Homo sapiens: one gene and its partners. The protein of the gene in region 2 interacts with the protein of the main gene of each other region in a pairwise test. Each region holds a gene or a part of one and is shown on either strand. Other genes may lie near its edges.

Region 1 (3,830 bases), on a different chromosome or scaffold from region 2:
GCTGGAATTACAGGCCTGAGCCACCGTGCCTGGCCCTAATGCACTATTTTAATAAATAACAATTAATGCAAAAATCTGTGATGAGGACCAGGCACTGTGGCTCAGGCCTGTAATCCCAGCAGTTTGGGAGGCCGAGGCAGGCAAATTGCTTGAGCCCAGGAGTTTGAGACTAGCCTGGGCAACACGGCGAAACCTTATCTCTACACACAAAAAAAATACAAAAATTAGCCAGGTGTGGTGGCCTGTGCCTGCAGTCCCAGCTACTCAGGGGGCTGACACGGGAGGATGGCTTGAACCCAGGAAGCAAATGTTGCAGAGAGCTGAAATCGCACTGCTGCACTCCAACCTGGGCCACAGAGAGAGACTCTGTCTCAAGACAAAACAAAAAAACCAGAAAAACAAAAAACCAACCAAACAAACAAAAAAAAACTATGATGAACAAATTATCAAAATTTTAAATAAAGGAAGGATCTAGCACTGTAGTTGCATGACAGTACCTCATTCTCCTTACCCCAATTTCAATAAAATTTTATTTATAAAAACAGACCACAGCTGGGTGTGGTGGCTCACTCCTATAATCCCAGCAACTCAGGAGGCTGAGATGGGAGGATTGCTTGGGTGACAGATCCCCCACTCAACAAAAACAACAACAACAACAAAAACAGGCCATCATCACAGGTAATAAAAGAAAAAATACATAACTTGGACTATATCAAAATTTAAAACTTCTGTATATCAAAAGATGCAATGAACAGAGTAAAAAGACAACTCATAGAATGGAAGGAAATATTTGCAAATCACATCTGATAAGGGGTTAATATCCAGAGTGTATAAAGAACTCCTACAACCCAATAACCAAAAAAAAAGAAAGAAAGAAAGAAAAAGCCACTCAGATTTTAAAATGGGTAAAGGACTTAAAGAGATATTTCTCCAAAGAAGATATACAAGTGGCCACTAAGCACATGAAAGGATGCACAACATCACTAATCATTAGGGAAAAGCAAATCGAAACTACAATGAAGTATCACCTCACACCCATTAGGATGGCTATGTAAAAAACCCCAGAAAATAACAAGTGTTGGTGAGGATGTGGAGAAACTGGAACCCCCATGTACTGTTGGTGTGCACCTGTATCTATAAAATGGAATATTATTTAGCCTTAAAAAGGAAGGAAATTCTAATATATGCTGCGATATGGATGAACCTTGAAGACCTTATGCTAAGTGAAATAAGTCAGTGACAAAAATGCAAATACTGTATGATTCTACTTACATGAGATACCTAGAGTAGTCAAAATCATAGAGACATAAAATAGTAGAATGGTGGTTGCCAAGGGCTGGGGAAAGGGGGAAAAGGGGAGTTGCTTAACTGGTATAGAGACTTAGCTTGGCAAGATGAGAAGAATTCTAGAGATCTATTGCACAACAATGTGAACATACTTAACACAACTGAACTCTATACTTAAAAAGTGGTTTGGACGGTAAATTTCATATTTCCGTGTATTTTACCACATCTTTATAAAAGGGAGGCACGGACTAGTTTCCAGGTTTCATTCACATAAACATTGCAATAAAACATTTACCTTGATGCCCAGGAGGTAAATATCCCCCTCCACACCAGCACAAAGGCAGGCAAGGACCCCCAGTGGCTTTTTCCTCATGATTGGGTGGGGCAAGGGAGAGAAAAAGATGCCTCGAAACGAACTTGGAGATCTCGTGGCTCCTGGAGCAGGCCACTTACCTTGTGGGCACATCAGGGTATTGAGTGTGTCGGAAAACACTTTCCAGCTCCTCCACCTGCAACAGCGTGAACTTCGTGCGCCGAGTTCGTGGCTGCATGTTCTCGGGCTGCGGACCCTCCATGGCCGCCTGGGCCGGCTCCTCCGGCGGGGGCTGCGGCTGCTGCCGAGGCTCCTGGTTTCCACCGCCGCCCTCGGGGATCATGCCGCCATCGCGGTTCATGCCGTTCTCGTGGTTCACACCGCCCTCAGGGTTCATATTACCCATGAGGCCTGGAGCTCCTTGGCCAACATGGCCTTCTGCGCTTGATGCTGCCCCCAGCTGAGGTGTGGGGCTTATTTTTACCTGGTATACACTCAGGCAGTAGAACACGGTGTCGTGGACGAGCGAACGCGCCATGGCTGGAGCGCTGCGCCCCTGCACAAACTCCGTGGCGTCTGCAGCTGGAGTGGGGGTTAGAGGGTGGAGCTAGTTCCTGTTCTCATGCTTGGTATTGGTTACAGTTGCAATGAGTGGGACTTGCTTATGCGCACAAGCAAGAGAGGGAATGGAGAGGAGTGGGGGGATGGGAAGTTGGGGGGTGCGGGTGGGGAGTGGGGGTGTTGCAGGTGGGAGTGGGGGGTTGTGAGTGTGGGGTGGGGTGCAGGTGGGGATGGGGGTGTGGGTGGAGGGTGGGGGGTGCACAGTGAGGGTGGGGGTTGCGGGTGAGGGTAGGGGTTGTGGGTTGGGGTGGGGGTTGCCGGTGGGGGTACATGGTGGGGGTGGGGGTAGCGGGTGGAGATGGGAGGTGTGGGTGGAGGGTGCGTGGTGGGGGTAGGGGTTGTGGGTGGGGGTGAGGGGTGTGGTATGGGTCGTGGGTGGGGGTGGCAGTTGAGGGTGGAGTGGGGTGGCCAAAACACAGGGGCAGTGTGGAGAAGAAAAGGGCCAATAGGAGGCATATATGTATGCAACATGGGGCCCCAGCTTGCAGCTTTGCTGACTACACCCTACTCGGGCCTAGTTATTACCCTGAGGAAAGCTGATTTGGGGGCTCAGAGGGGAGGTGAGATCTCACGGTGACCATAGGACGCCTTGAGTAAAAGTTTGGAGAATATCTCATGGCCTGACCCTCCATATTTGGCAGCATGCACAGGGCGCGGGCTATTAATTAAGCAGAAATGATTGACTGGGGGCTGCTTGTTCAGAGTTCCAGCAAAGGCACTGAAAGCAGAGCTGCCATGCTCTCTTCAGTGCTGGGATCGGGATCTTGGAGATGGGCATGCAGAGCATTCTGGGTGGTAAGATGTGCTCTGCAAGAAATCTAACGCACCCTTTGAGAAAGTCAACACAGAATAAACACGAGGCTGAATCTGTTAGCCTGAGACTGAATATCTTTGGCTATGCAAGAGAAACCTGTACTCATGGCAAAATGGAGTGCTATAAGGACAAGCAAAAAATAAATAAATAAATAAAATCGGGGATGGTATAGGAAGAGCACCAGTAAGGGCATACCTGCCAAAAATCTCCAATCTTGGGATGGAGATTTGGGATTTAAGGATATGCAGCTTACTGGATGTGGGGCCACTTCTGCTCCACAGAGCCTTGTAACTACACAGCCTTCCTACCACTGACCCCAATAAGCCCAATTACGAAGAAAAACCCTGAAGAGCCTGGTGCAGTGGCTCCTGCACTAGTCCCAGCTACTCAGGAGGCTGAGATGGGAGGATCACTTGAACCCAGGAGTTTGAGGCTGTGGTGAGCTAGAATCACATGGCAGCACTCCAGCCTGGGCAACAGACAGAGGCCCCTTTTCTTTAAAATAAATAATAAAATAAGAAATAAAATGAAAATGAAAGAAAGGAAAGCGCTAAGAGAGTCTGTCATGAGGAAGGGCATGGAGATGTCTTTTGAGGGTGGACAACTCATGAATCCTTAATTTTTCTAGAGATTGTGTGTGTGCTCTTAAGTGATGTTATATACTTTATTTTGTTTTTTAAAAATATTTTTAAAAATTTTATTTTTAAATGTTCTTTTAAAAACTTTCTGTATCTATTTATATCTATTGGTTATTTGAGGTTTTTTTGGCAGCATATATAAATATGCAGACCCTTT
Region 2 (3,500 bases):
CTGCACGCCCAGTGGCAGGCTGGGAATCCAAGATCAAGTCCCTGAGCGAAGGCATGAAGTGTGGTCAAGTAGAATCAGGGTCATTTGCTGCTGAAAACTAGTGTTTCTCCCCTCTTCTGCGTGTTAAGGAAGAATGGCTGATTTGGTGACCTGATACATGTATGGTGTGAGTGTGTGTAGTGTCTGTCTGTCTACATCTGTCTGTTACATATATATAGTCATGTGCTTATGGGACATATTGGTGGTTCCCTAAGATTGGAACACTGTATTTTTACCGTACCTTTTCTGTGTTCAGATACGTTTAGGTGCACACTTACACCTGTGCTATGGCTACCTGTAGTGTTCAGTGCAATAGCATGCTGTACAGGTGTGTAGCCTAGGAACAATACACTATACGGTATAGCCAAGGTGTATGGTAGGCCACACCATCTAGGTGTGTCCAGTACACTCTATGGTGTTTGCATGATGACAACATCACCTAATGACACATTTCTCAAAACATATCCATCATCAAGCAGCAAGTGGCTGTATATAAGAAATGCATATGAAATTTCAAGTAGGTTTTTCTAATTTTATGGAATACTATGCAGCCATAAAACAGAATAAGTTCATGTCCTTTGCGGGAACATAGATGAAGCTGGAAGCCATCATCCTCAGCAAACTAACACAGGAACAGAAAACCAAACACCGCATGTTCTCACTCATAAATGGGAGTTGAACAATGAGAACACATGGACACAGGGAGGGGAACATCACACACCGGGGCCTGACAGGGGTGGTGGTAGGGGACAAGTGGAGGGAGAGCATTAGGACAAATACCTAATGCATGTAGGGCTTAAAGCCTAAATGATGGGTTGATAGGTGCATGGCACCATGCACCATGGCACATATATACCTATGTAACAAACCTGCACATTCTGTACACGAATCCCAGAACTTAAAGTTTAAAAAAAAAAAAAAAGAAAGGCATGCTGTCCTTCCAACTTTTCTTTCTTTGCCCTTCTCCAAGGCTCCTCTGTAGGCCAGCTTAAAACTAATTTACGTTCTTAAAATTTCCGTAGTCGGGGAGAAGACCATTTTCCCCTTCATCCTTGGGAACAGTGACCCCACAAAGGCAGCATCTATGAAACCCTGGGCATGCCGCGTCTCTTTAAAGTCCTGCTCACCCGCCCTGGGTGGAGGGCTCCCTGAGGCCAGCAGGGACCTCCCAGGAACCCGCGCCCACTGGCAGCCAGGCTGTTTTCCCAACACTGCCTCAGTTGCCAGCAGGGGTTTTTAAAGCATTAAAAATAAAGGGGAATATGTGTTTGAGTTATTTAGAGGTAAAATTTAAATTTTCTACTCAAAGCAGGAACAAGGGAAGGCTGTGGGCTGGATAGAGATGGGAAAATATGTAAGTAGGTCAGTGAAGCAGTCACTTACTAAGTAATATCCTGGCAGCCTGCGAGAGTCCATGAGGCGTTCAAAGGGGCCTGACTGAGAGCTTGAAAGGAGTCTCAGCCCTGGGAGGGCAGAGCCAGTGGTGCCTGGAAGCGAGCTGAGCTCTGGGAATTGTGCTGTTAACGGCAGGGGATGGCCTGGGCTTCATCTTCGAAATGGGGAACACCTGAGTGACTGCTGATCTGACTTGGCCATCAGGGGCCACGCCATCCTGCACCCCTCCCCCAGGTGCGACAAGGACGCAGCCGCACCCCTGCCCGTGCGCGGTACCTGACCACCGAGTGTGTGCACACGATGAACTCGGGCTTGGAGTTCCACTGATGGTAGGTGATGTAGTAGTGAGTCTGCAGCCAGATCCACTGCTGACCTTTGGTCAGAAACCGGTAGCAACACGACTTCCCTTTGCCAAACTGCATCACTGTCGGTAGAAAATGGATTCCGCATATAACCAATGTTAATATGAAAATGATCTTTTCCCCAAGAGTTATTGTAAAGATAAGCTTTCAAAAAAAAAGACAATACCAAACATGGCTTGTTTCCCCGGTTGCCCTGTATTTTAAGTGACTGTCAGGATCACGGTACACTGTCGTGAATTCTTAAACAGTGGAAGAGTGATCCATATACTTTCCCAAATGCTCAGACGCTTAAAGAGATCCTCAGATAAGGGCAGATGCAGACAGATTTTCAAACTGCAGGTTTAATGAAACAGAGGCTCAGGTTTGCCTGGTGCTCATCCTCCCGCCGCAGGCAGAGCTGTCTTTGGAGCTGCAGGAGCCCAGGAGAGAGCATCCAGAATTGGCCCGAAAACAGACCTGCCAGCCAGCAACCTCTGGACGGATTCTGTGGCTGCCAGTCAGCAGTTCATGCCCAGTCGACACAGTTCTCAAATAAAGAGTCGGGGACAGATGCCTCCACCCCAGGCTTCCCCCTTCCCCAGAGCTGCTTGCAGCCCCCCCATAGTGATGTCTGCTGGTGGCTTTTCTAGGGGTGTCCAGAGCAGAATGGATGCTGATGGTGTATCAAGCCTGGGCAGGGCAGAAAGATGGACTACGGATCCAAGGAAGAAGAATGATTTGGGTTTTATTGCCATAGTGCCTGGAACTTAGCACCTCTTTAGGTAAATGGTTAAGAGAAATCTCAACTAGGAAACTAACGCTACAAAAGGACACTGATGGCTGGGCACAGGGGCTCATGCCTGTAATCCCAGCACTTTGGGAGGCTGAGGCAGGCGGATCATGAGGTCAGGAGATCGAGACCATCCTGGCGAATACGGTGAGACCCCATCTCTACTAAAAATACAAAAAATTAGCCGGGTGTGGTGGCGGGCGTCTGTTGTCCCAGCTACTCACGAGGCTGAGGCAGGAGAATGGCGTGAACCCGGGAGGCGGAGCTTGCAGCGAGCCGAGACTGGGTGACAGAGTGAGACTCTGTCTCAAAAAAAAAAAAAAAAAAAAAAAAAAAGGACACTGACTTGGAGAATGTGATTATCTGAAGAGGAGATAAGCCCAGCAGATTGAGGGTGTGGGCTCCACAGGGCAAGGAGGTCTTGCCCAAGCCATGGAGAAGCCTTTCAATTGCTGAATGTAATTCTTCACTTCGGGATCTTGTTAAAATAGACACTCTGAGTAGGCCTGATTCTACAAGTGTAGCAAACTTCCCGTGATGCCTATGCAGTGTGGTCCTAGACCACGCTTTGAGGAGCAAGGAGTTACAGTTTTAATGATTAGCTTTAAATTCTAACAGCCGATCCAGATGGAACTCAAGCCTATTCTTCCTTCCCTCTCCACAGAAGAGAAAGTTCTAGCCAGGCACAGTGGCTTATGCCTGTAATCCAAGCATTTTGGGAGGCCGAGGTGAGCAGATCATTTGAAGTCAGGAGTTTGAGACCATCCTGACCAACATGGTGAAACCCTGTCTGTACTAAAAATACAAAAAATTAGCTGGGCGTGGTGGCACACACGCCTGTAATCCCAACTACTCTAGAGGCTGAGGTGGGAGAATTGCTTGAACCCAGAAGGTGAAGCTTGCAGTGAGCCGAGATTGCGCCACTGCACTCCAGC
Region 3 (3,830 bases), on a different chromosome or scaffold from region 2:
TGTTTCAAAATGTGCATGGAAGAAACTAATGAAAACAACTCACACTTTTGTTCTTCAGATTATTTTACTTGAAATACTTTATAATTAGAATCCAGCTTGTGGAATCACTTAGTCATGAGTCTATTGATTTTAACAAACTAATTTATTAGATTAATTTGGCTTACTTAAAAAATAGCAATCTTTTCTGAAAATGTTTATTAAAATATATATAAAAGGTCTTTACTATAACTAAAAGTGCCCAAATATGTACCATGCTATAATAGTATTTACAATATATTTTCAGAAAAAATGACAATATTCAGATTAAATGCAGGAAAGAAAACATCACATTTTAACACTTAATATTTCCACTGATTCTTCATGCTCTGCAATTAGAAGATAATTTCACTTGTTTAGTTTTCTATCTATTCCAGCAGATTTGTGTTGAAATTTTTTTTCGCCATTAGAAACTGTGATTCTCTATGGGACCTTTTCAGTTTTGCACGCCGATTTTGAAACCAAATCTAAAGTTAAGGAAAAATAAAATAGGTCTCAGAAACATTATTTTATTATTCTTAACATTTCAACATCATGAATAACAACTAAATTTGAAAATTACCTGGATTCTGTCTTCCTCTAGATTCAATTTTTGAGCTAAGTCTTCTCTAATATCGATACCAGGATAGCAGTTTACTCTAAAGACATTTTCTAACACTTCAATCTAAGAAAAAAAAATGTTGATATTCAGTATGTCTCCAAAAATGAGCTTTAATTTCTAGAGTAAAATGACTACATTTAAATCTTGGCAATTAATCTGGATGCCTTTTTAAAAATGATTACCTGGAAATTGTTAAAATATGGTAGTCTACTGTTTCATTAATAAGGCTTCTAAACTGAGATACCAAAGTGAGTGGGCTTTTGCTCAACTTGGTGTCAATTAAAGCCTTTATATTATCATTATTGGGTGAAAAAACTTCCCACCTGGTTTTGAGTAAAAGCAGTTCTTGGTCTTCGGCCTCTATACCAACTCAACTCTCTTTTCAAAGACAGTCTTTCTGAGGCTGAAAAGTAATTTTCATATTTCGAAGCTCTTTCTTCTGGCATTGGGTGATCCACCACGCTAGGGAATGAAATCCCACTGGGAGGATTTGGGACATGTAGACATAAGTTACCATCTTTCCCTAAAAACAAAAAAATAAGCCCTGTCTTAGATGGTCAATCTTATGTTCCACAAAGTTCTATAGAGGTAGTTTCAGGAACTCATCTTTCATTTCCTAGTGGAATTCTGGGGTTCACAAGAGAATTGCACCCCGTTAACCAAAAACCAATAAAAAATGAAGATCCTGTCTTGGTAATCCTGCCTCTTTGGTCTCTGAATGTCGTTTATTTTTCAGTGAAAAGAGATTTCAAATATCTGATGTGTCAAACAGGGAGAGATCTTCTGAAGTAAATGCAGGTTCTTGGGATTTCCTGTGAGTGAATTTATCCACTTTGCTCAATCCAAAGCTGATATTCTTTTAATTTCCCATAGGACTCAGTTGGAGGCATTAAAAGTCCTAGACTCTGGCTGGGCGTGGTGGGTCATGCCTGTAATCCTAACACTTTGGGAGGCTGAGGCAGGCGGATCACCTGAGGTCAGGAGTTCGAGACTAGCCTGACCAACAGGGTGAAACCCCCCTCTACTAAAAAATACAAAAATTAGCAGGCCATGGTGGTGCATGCCTGTAATCCCAGCTACTTGGCAGGCTGAGGCAGGAGAATCGTTTGAACCCAGGAGGCGGAGGCTGCAGTGAGCCAAGATTATGCCATTGCACTCCAGTCTTGGCAACAAGACCAACACTCTGTCTCAGAAAAAAAAAAAAAATAATAAATAATAATAATAAATTAAATTAAAGTCCTAAACTCTAGCTCTATGTAGTATGAAATAAAGGGCAAATTAAACACTGTAAATGAAATAACAAAGAATTGAAACAATTAAGCTGTGGCATACCTGATGAGCTGCAGGTGTCTGCCCAGGGCCTGTGGGGTTTCATTAATGGAACACAGTCTTTCTTCTGGTCCAGTCCTAAGATTCTCTCAATTGAAAAGGAGCAAGTTGAGGGTTTGTTTTCCCCGAGCTGAGCGCCTTCCTGAAGGCTGGGAGACATCCTCTCGTGGTCTGCACAGAGCAACAGCTCTGGCCTCTGCTGGCTCTGCCCCACGTGTATAGGGCTGGGATCTTCCTGCAGTTCACCTTATAGCTCCGCTGACAAGGGGGCTGGATTTAGAACGTCACTAATTAAAATCCTGTCTTAGAAAGTTTTAGCATGTCAATGAACACTTGCCCAGCCAGCAGCTTAAGGAGTTAATTGTTTATTTGTTTGCAAGTAATTAGCAACTAATGGCTACACCAGGGGGGCCACCTACAGGGACAAAAAGTGTTATCTCTCCTAAGCAGAACACAGACTTAACTTTCTCTAAAGAAGTGATGCACAAATGTGGCACTTATCTTTTATTTGAAATCATTAATGTATAAAATCAAGCTTTTTATTCTGAAGTTTATACTTTCATGGGCTCCAGTTACCTAAACATACAGGCAAGATACGAGAGCAGTCGAGTAATAAATAATCTAATTTAAGTAAATTTTCTTCCAAGGAAATGGGAAAAAATAATAATCTCTTAATGCTATTACAGTAATTCTGATGAAAATGCCTGTTTTTCATATGCATATGTAATAGGGAATGTTGTCAATGAAAACACAATAGTATTTGGAGTGCAGCATAGTGGAAAAGGTTGGCAATGTTATTAACATGGAGTGTAATTGTCTTCCAAGTGCCTGGATTAATTCATAGGAACAGTTGCACCAAGTATTTTAAATAATTAATGGGCTAATTCCTTTCCTTCCTCTTTTCTTTTAAATGAGAGAGATACATGTTTATATGAAGGTTCATATGTAATCACCTTCAAGCAACTTAGAAGCATGACTACTTAAAGTGAATAATTTCTCTATCACAGTTATTTCAAAGAAAAGAACATAGTTTGCTTTCTAAAGAAAAATTTCCGTCTGTTGATCTTTTGAGGGATGGGCAGAGGATGGAGTCTTTCAAGATGGTAAGGCTTATGAAAATAACCAAGAACAGAATGTTTTAATTTCATAATCCTAAGAAAACTTGAAATTAAAATTAAAGTATAACTGCTGATTGGGAAGATTTTGAACTGGCTGTTCCCCCCGCAAAGGTATACTTGTAGTTTTTATACTCTGCTCCTCCTCTTCTTCCAGTACCTTCCTGAAGATAAATTTAAGTGCTTAGCTTTATTCATTATTTAAACAACTGCTGTTCTTTCCTTCAGGGAAGGGAAAAACAGTCTCCACTCATAGAGGAAATAGCCTCTATAGGATGGAGCTCATCTTCATCAGCTTTTATCCTATTATGATCTCACAAATATTGAGCTAAATTCCTCCTGATGAAAGCTCTCGGGTAAATAAAGGATCTCACATGCAAAACATCAACAGGCATATGGATTTATAAATGTACGTGTAAAACCATTCTGCGGATGAATAAACCGGTGAACATTTATACCTCATGGAGATTTTGTATATAGTGCTGAGATGTAGATTGTGCAAAGGTGGGGGGTATCTTAATCTGGGACGACTAGGAGGAAGCGAGAGAATACAGGACCTTTTCAGCTTTCTTTCTCTCCTTTGAGACATTCATTATTTCCTTCCACAATTGGTTGAGCACCTTCTCAGAACCAGAAAAAAACAAAATACTATCCTTGCCTTCATAGAGCTCACAGTGGTGCAGGGTGGGGGGCAGGAAACAAATAATAATTATAGGTAAATTATCTAGTATGTTAGCCAGGGTAAGAAT

What was found.
Region 1: the proteins of NPAS2 (region 2) and RHOXF1 interact in a two-hybrid assay, tested with the Homo sapiens proteins (one large-scale study listed by BioGRID and IntAct).
Region 3: the proteins of NPAS2 (region 2) and HESX1 interact in a two-hybrid assay, tested with the Homo sapiens proteins (one large-scale study listed by BioGRID and IntAct).

The regions. Positions count from the first base shown.
Region 1 is NC_000023.11:120,113,725-120,117,554, forward strand, and holds the start of RHOXF1 (rhox homeobox family member 1), read right to left. Parts: upstream 2,190-3,830; 5' UTR 2,183-2,189; coding exon of another isoform or gene 2,139-2,182; coding exon 1,741-2,138; intron 1-1,740. UniProt on the Homo sapiens protein: Transcription factor maybe involved in reproductive processes. Modulates expression of target genes encoding proteins involved in processes relevant to spermatogenesis.
Region 2 is NC_000002.12:100,966,639-100,970,138, reverse strand, and holds part of NPAS2 (neuronal PAS domain-containing protein 2), read right to left. Parts: intron 1,859-3,500; coding exon 1,711-1,858; intron 1-1,710. UniProt on the Homo sapiens protein: Transcriptional activator which forms a core component of the circadian clock.
Region 3 is NC_000003.12:57,197,793-57,201,622, forward strand, and holds HESX1 (homeobox expressed in ES cells 1), read right to left. Parts: upstream 2,187-3,830; 5' UTR 2,127-2,186; coding exon 1,970-2,126; intron 1,161-1,969; coding exon 961-1,160; intron 701-960; coding exon 599-700; intron 504-598; coding exon 405-503; 3' UTR 46-404; downstream 1-45.